Homo sapiens: one gene and its partner. The protein of the gene in region 2 purifies or fractionates together with the protein of the main gene of each other region. This does not show direct contact. Each region holds a gene or a part of one and is shown on either strand. Other genes may lie near its edges.

Region 1 (3,821 bases), on a different chromosome or scaffold from region 2:
AGCCTGGGTGACACAGTGAGACTCTGTCTCAAAAGAAAACAAACAAACAAACAAACAAAATTAGCCAGGTGTGGTGGTGCGCACCTGTAATCCCAGCTACTCTGGAAGGTGAGGCAGGAGAATTGCTTGAACCTGGGAGGCAGATGTTGCAGTGAGCCGAGGTCGCGCCACTGCACTCCAACCTGAACGACAGAGTAAGACTCCGTCTAAAAAAAAAAAAAAAGTAAAACTCTATATTCTTGGTATTTAAGTTATATTTTATGGTTTTTAAATGTGTAATTCATTCTGCAGAGTTAACCAGATATATTTAATTTTCGTTTATGCCAATATACCCATTCCATTCACTTCAAATTTTTCCATAACATATTCCCCTTTATTTGGAGCTGCCAAAACTTGCTTGTTGATAGGCTGGACTTCAAAGGTGAAGGCAAAAATACCAGTTAACAGCTAATTTTTATGGATATTCCTTTAAGATAACTGGCCTCTCCTGGGCGCGGTGGCTCACATCTGTAATCCCAGCACTTTGGGAGGCTGAGGCGGGCGGATCACAAGGTCAGGAGTTCGAGGCCAGACTGGCCAACATGGTGAAAGCCCGTCTCTATTAAAAATACAAAAATTAGCCAGGAATGGTGGTAGGCGCCCGTAGTCCCAGCTACTCGGGAGACTGAGGCAGGAGAATTGCTTAAACCTGGGAGGCAGAGGTTGCAGTGAGCTGGGACCGCGCCACTGCACTCCAACCTGGGTGACAGAGCGAGACTCCATTTCAAAACAAAAATAAAAAAGATTGGTCTCTCATGGAAAATCAGAAAACATTTCTCATCTTTGATAAATACTAATGTCCACTTTAAGCAGCCTAAAAGATTACCAACTACTTATTTCAACACAGGTTTATGTGTTTTGCCATGTGAAACTGATTGAGAATTAACTTTCATAATCATAAGCAAAGCTTATCTGTTACCTATAGATGATAAACAAAATAAATTATAATACATTGAAAGATGGTATGTACTTTGTAGAAAAATAAATTAGGGAAGAGAGCTATGGAGTAGTTTATTTTAAATACAGCGATTAGGCCTCACCAAGAAGGTGAAGATTAGAACAAAGATTTAAAAGAGGCAGAGGCAGGAAGCCCTATTCATATCTGGGGGAAAGAGACTTCCAAGCAAAGGAAAAGACAAATACAAAGAGGCTGAAGCAGGAATGGTGTATTTGAGGGAGGAATAGCAAGGCCAACAGTATGACTGGAGCAGAATAAATGAAGAAAATCAGAAATAAATACTGAGTATTATGAGTAGAGTGTAGGGCTATGTAACACAATGTAAATAAACATTTTAGTTTTAACTCTGAATGAGGTGAAAATCATTTGAAGAGTTTCTGACTTGTCACATTTTAACAGTATCACTGGCCACTGTGTTAAGCCTGGAAGGGAACAGGATACAAGCAAGAGACTGGTACAATAATCCATATAAGAGATGGTAGCCTGGAGAGATGGTGGCCTGGAACAGGTGGTAGTGGTGAAAGTGCTATCAAGTTGTTGGATCCTGGATATATTTTGAAGGCAGCCAATAGGATTTGCTGAGGGATTGTATAATATGTGGGATTTAAAAGAGAGAAATGCAGAGTTATCTTATGGCACTGAAATCATTTCCATAGCATTTTTTAAAATATTGAAAGTACCTCACATTTTAGAAGGTTCAAAGCACCTTTTCCTGCTAAGTATGAAACTCCGGGCCGGGCGCGGTGGCTCAAGCCTGTAATCCCAGCACTTTGGGAGGCCGAGGTGGGTGGATCACGAAGTCAGGAGATCGAGACCATCCTGGCTAACACAGTGAAATCTCGTCTCTACTAAAAATACAAAAATTTAGCCGGGCATAGTGGCAGGCGCCTGTAGTCCCAGCTACTCGGGAGGCTGAGGCAGGAGAATGGCGTGAACCCGGGAGGCGGAGCTTGCAGTGAGCAGAGATTGTGCCACTGCACTCCAGCCTGGGCGACAGAGCCAGACTCCATCTCAAAAAAAAGAAACTCTATAGCCCACGATAATAAAAACAGGAACCTGGGCCAGGTGCAGTGGCTCATACCTGTAATCCCGGCGTTTTGGGAGGCCAAGGCATGCAGATCACTTGAGCTCAGGAGTTCAAGACCAGCCTGGGCGACATGGTGAAACCCCATCTCTACCAAAAATACAAAAAATTAGCCAGGTGTGGTAGCATGCACCTGTGGTCCCAGATACTCAGGAGGCTGAGATGGGAGAATCGCTTGAGCCCGGGAGGTGGAGGTTGCAATGAGCCGAGCTCACACCACTGCACTCAAGCCTGGGCGACAGAGTGAGGCCCCCCAAAAATTAAATAAAATAACAGAAACCTATGATAGAAGGGTTCCCTACCTCTAGTGTAGCGGTGGTCACACAAGTATATGCATTTGTCTAAACTCATTGAAATTAAAACAGATGCATTTTATTGTATGCAAATTTTATCTCAAGAAATCTGGTCCAAAAAGAAACCCTGAAGACATATCTCTAGTACTCAACATATGCATGCACTCAGCTTTTCTTTTTTCACTTTTTTCTCTTTGAATCTTTCAAACTATTTTTTTCTGCACTCTTAAGAATACTGCAAGTATGCAAAATACAGCAAAACACTGCTAATAAGCATTCCTCTATTGTAGACTTATCCAGATAGAAACAAAATTATTTCTCCCAGGATAGATTATTTTAGACTAGCTCCATCAGTACACTACGTGCCAAATTTCTGAAATGATAATGAACTGAGATTCCTCTGAGCAAATATTCACATACAACTCACTCATTCATTCAATATCTACTTCCAATTATGTGTCAGGTCTGCAGGAATTATTCCTAGAAAAAAAAAAGTGTTTTATGCCCAAAGAAGAATGGGAAATGCTTAACAGAAAAACTACTTTTACAGCAAAGCTTTTCAGAAGTATGAAAATACTCAATTGTTTGGAAATCTCCAAAAAAGAGTTGATCTTTTTCTGACATTGCCACTTTTGTTGTTTTACCATTTTCAATGATTAAAGAGCAACACTCCTGTGCCTGCCTATAGTCACAGCTACGCAGGAGGATCACTTGAGCCCTGGAGTTCTGGGCTGCAGCACGCTACTGATCAGGTGTTCATGCTAAGTCCATTCAGCATTAATATGGTGACCTCCTGGGATGAGAGAGAACCACCAGGTTGCCAACAGAGAAGGGCAAAACTCCCAAACTGATCAATAGTGGGATTACGCCTGTGAATAGCCACTGCACTCCAGCCTGAGCAACACAGGAAGAATTCATCTTTTTAAAAACAAAAACAAGGCTGGGCACAGTGGCTCATACCTGTAATCCCAGCACTTTGGGAGGACGAGGCAGGTGGATCCTTTGAGCCTGAGTTCCAGACCCGCCTGGGCAACATGGTGAAACCCCATCTCTACCAAAAATACAAAAAAATAGCCAGGCATGGTGGCGTGCACCTGTGGTCCCAGCTACTTGGGAGGCTGGGGTGGGAGGATTGCTTAAGCCTGAAATGCGGAAGTTGCAGTGAGCCAAGATCGCAGCACTGCCCTCCACCTGGGTGAAAGAGACCCCATCTCAAAAACCAAATAAAACAAAAAAGCAGCGCTATCTACTACTATCTATACAGAAAAATGAGGGCTTGCCTGAAACTGGGGTGGAACAGGGTGACTTGCAAACAGACAGAAGGAATCCTTTTGGGGTAATGGATGCATAACTTTGTATATTTACCAAAAATCATTGAATTGTGCACTTACAGGTGAATTTTCTATGTCAATATAGTTCATATAGCTGCCATTTTAAAAAAGGCATA
Region 2 (3,821 bases):
GAGGCAGAGTCTGGAGGACTCCTTGAACCTGGGAGGTAGAGGTTGCAGTAAGCCAAGATCACACCACTGTACTCCAGTCTGGGTGACAGAGTAAGACCCTGCTTCAATTAAAAACAAAAACAAAAAAAAACACATTGGTTAAACAGCCTATCATCTGGTAACTCATCTGTTTGTTTTTGTTTTTTGTTTTTGTTTTTGTTTTGCGATGGAGTATCCCTCTGTTACCCAAGCTGGAGTGCACTGGCACCATCTTGGCTCACAGCAACCTCCGCCTCCTGGGTTCAAGCGATTCTCCTGCCTCAGCCTCCCCAAGTAGCTGGCACTACAGGCGCACACCACCATGCCCAGCTAATTTTTTTTCGTATTTTTAGTAGAGATGAGGTTTCAACATGTAGGCCAGGCTGGTCTTGAACTCTTGACCTCAGGTGACCTGCTCGCCTCAGCCTCCCAAAGTGCTGAGGCATGAGACACCGTGCCTGGCTTCATCTGTTGTTTTATAGTAGAAATACATTCCCATGGGCAGGAGGCATCGCAATCGCCAAAACTAACAGAAACATTATCAGATACATTAAATAAACACTAGGAATTAAGAAAAATTCCTCACCAGCTTGACAGCTTTGTTATACATTTTAACGTAGCTCTGAGAAAGAAGAACTTCCTCAATTTTGAAGGTCACTCCAGTAAAGCTCAGTTGTCGAGCAATGTACATTCCTCTAAGCTTCATATCCATAGCAACTATTTCCATGGCACCAACTCCTCTGAATAAAATTAAAACATACAGTAATTACCAATACAGTAGAATTTTAACATACAGAGAATGGGCTTTAGGAATAACACACTTCTTAGATTGCTACTGAGAAGAGTATATACCGTAAACTGCATTACCTCCGTTCTACTGCTTGAATAAAATCACTGAATTCTCTAAATGGAGTACCCTCACCCCATATGCCAAGACGGTTCATATAGGCCATGTTGCGTGGTTCAGAAGCACCTGAAAATCCCACAAATGAAATATATTATAGTTGAAAAAATAACCTACAATATATATTTTTAAATAAATAAATACTCACCAGTTGCACTAGCATAAACAACTCTGGCTTTTGGCAATTTGTTCTGAAGCTCTAAAACTGCTAAGCCTGTCTTGGTTGGCTTTGAAGAACCAACAGGACATAAGTTTTTGGCTTTATGACACTCATCAAACACTATCTAAATGGAATGAGTTAAGGAATGTATCACATTAGTATTAAGTAAGAATCTCCAGTCTTTCAAGAAGAGTTAACTTTTATTTCCCTGAGGCCTTCTGATTGCCTATTTCATGACTGCAAATACAAAGGAAGTCCTATGGGCCTTTCCCCAGTTACATCCTCCTCCCTCTCTAGCCTCAAAGACATTCACTGAATTTGGAATTTAAACCAGCAATTTGCCTCTAAATTAAAACAGAGAAAAGAACCCACTGCAGCAAGAAGTTGTTATCTGGTAACTTGTAAAAGTAGAAGCATGATTGGTAACCAACTTAATCAGCATTTCAAAAAGTGATGTTCCTCATGCAGGACAGTTAAAAGATATACTGTGAACAAGTTTGGGACCACTAAGTTCTAACAGTTTTCTTTCACTTAGTCTTCTCGGGTATTCTGCTATGTAAATATGCAATGTTAATCCTCAAAAGGGGAATACAGTATTCAGTATTCCTCATATCTATTAACATTTTTCTAAACCAGGAGATTAAACATTGGTCTCCTATCTGACAGGTAAAAAACCGAATCAACTTTCCAATCCCTTTGGACTCTAGGTAATCATTAAAGTTTTCACTCCAGCAACTCGTTTAATCTCAAGATTCCTGTTTCCCAAAGGTCTACCCTTTTATAATTTTCTTGTCGTTAAAAAATAGAAAAATATTTGCCATAAAGGATACCACTCCATCGAAGTCATCACCGCACCAATGCAGAAGTTGTTTTAACCTAGTTTTATACTTGCCGCCAGACTGGCTTTCACCAATAAGTGAAGAGTAAGTAGCAAAAATAACACCCTTTTTCACACTCCCATTATGTTTGGAAGAAATTTTTCCGTATTTAAACTAAAAAAGAAAAGAAAAGAATTTAGTTAATTAGTATACCTTTCTCTCTGCAACATTCATCCCAACTAAACATTCACAAGCAGGAACTCTTGTTAGGCCCATGACAGGCTTCAGAAAACATAAAAGTACAGAGACGCAAATTTATTTGTATAAATGTACACAACACAAACACACAACTTTATAGTACAAAAATCCAGTTTTTGGTAGGACACAGTGGCTCACACCTGTAATCCCAACACTTTGGGAGGTCAAGGTGGGTGGATCGCTTGAGCTCAGGAGTTCCAAGACCAGCCTGGCCAACATAGTGAAACCCCATCCCTACAAAAAATACAAAAATTAGCCAGGCATCGTGGTGCGTGTCTGCAGTCCCAGCTACCACAGGGGCTGAGGTGGGAGAACTGCTTGAGCCTGGGAGATGGAGGTTGCAGTGAGCCGAGATTGTGCCACTGCACTTCAGCCTGGGCAACAGAGCTGAGATCTTTTTTTTTTTTTTTTAAATCCAGTTTTCAAAGTCTTAAAAACTTTTATCATCACAAAAAAAAACATTAAAAACCAGACAAACTTCCCTATAAGAATAAAAAGTCACAATTTACAAACATTTATTGTGCACTTACTATATGCAAAACACTGTGATTAATTTCTGATACATAAGAATTATGAGTAATTGTTAATGTGCCTTTCTAATACTACTCTGAAATTTAAAAAAAAAATTCTAGATGCCACTTACATCCTTTTAGTTCTGAATTGTATACAGTCATTCAAGACACAGTACTTTATAGCTACAAATCCACCCAGTAAAACCCACCCTAACAAGCCACTGTTTAGGGCAACACTGAATTCAACTTAGGACTCACATGGGAAGTAGAGGTGCAGTTACTTATTTTCAAAGGGCTACTAGGGAGGCCCTTCCAGGAACCCTATCAGTCTATTTTAACCTTATAGCACCAACAATTGGTGCATGCATAGTAAGTCAATAAAGATTTGCTAACTGAACCTTAACATTCTAAAACACACTGGCACACATTGTCTTTCAGCTTACAGAATTGTTTTCATGTGAGCAGAGGTATGAGTAACTCAAGTCCATTAGCTGTACAAATACTGAAACCAGTCTGCCCAAGCCATAACTATCTACATCGCATATGATTTGGTGACCTATAGTGCAAGGTATGCCACCTGTCTAAACTGCACCCTTATGGCATATAAACTATAAAAGAAAGATAAAAATAACACTGAAAATTGAGAGAATCAACTGGTGTGCACTGTACACTTGAGAGCACATCTCAATTTGGACTGGTCACTTACACTGTTCAATAGCCACATGTGATGAGTGGCTACTGCCTGTCAGTGTTTAGCATATAGGAATCCACAAACCAACAATAGTGGCTAGCACTCACTATGCTTTCTGTGGAGTAACATCAAAGTTTTCCAAAAAGTGTCCCCTTATATACATAGCTATTATTATTGTCATCTCACAGATGAGTCAATATTTATTGAATGACCAACTGAATAAAAAGATTTCATACCTTATTTAACGAATGAACCAAAATGTTTTTTGCTCCAATATCCCTTAAATCTCTTTCAGCATCATACTTTAAGTCATTTGAAACACTAAACCTGCCAAAATATTAAAAAGCACAAATTAAATACAAATTATATCATTCTAGAATTCAGGAATAAAATTAATAAAGCCAGGTCTTGACACTTAAAAAAAAAAAAAAAAAGAAAAAGAAAATACACTTACTCATTA

The links.
Region 1: the proteins of SBNO1 (region 2) and RBM25 fractionate together in Homo sapiens (co-fractionation; one large-scale study listed by BioGRID). This does not show direct contact.

Annotation. Positions count from the first base shown.
Region 1 is NC_000014.9:73,061,357-73,065,177, reverse strand, and holds part of RBM25 (RNA-binding protein 25), read right to left. Parts: intron 207-3,821; exon of another isoform or gene 85-206; intron 1-84. UniProt on the Homo sapiens protein: RNA-binding protein that acts as a regulator of alternative pre-mRNA splicing. Involved in apoptotic cell death through the regulation of the apoptotic factor BCL2L1 isoform expression.
Region 2 is NC_000012.12:123,326,822-123,330,642, forward strand, and holds part of SBNO1 (protein strawberry notch homolog 1), read right to left. Parts: intron 3,689-3,821; coding exon 3,598-3,688; intron 2,075-3,597; coding exon 1,913-2,074; intron 1,207-1,912; coding exon 1,071-1,206; intron 992-1,070; coding exon 886-991; intron 759-885; coding exon 605-758; intron 1-604. UniProt on the Homo sapiens protein: Plays a crucial role in the regulation of neural stem cells (NSCs) proliferation. Enhances the phosphorylation of GSK3B through the PI3K-Akt signaling pathway, thereby upregulating the Wnt/beta-catenin signaling pathway and promoting the proliferation of NSCs.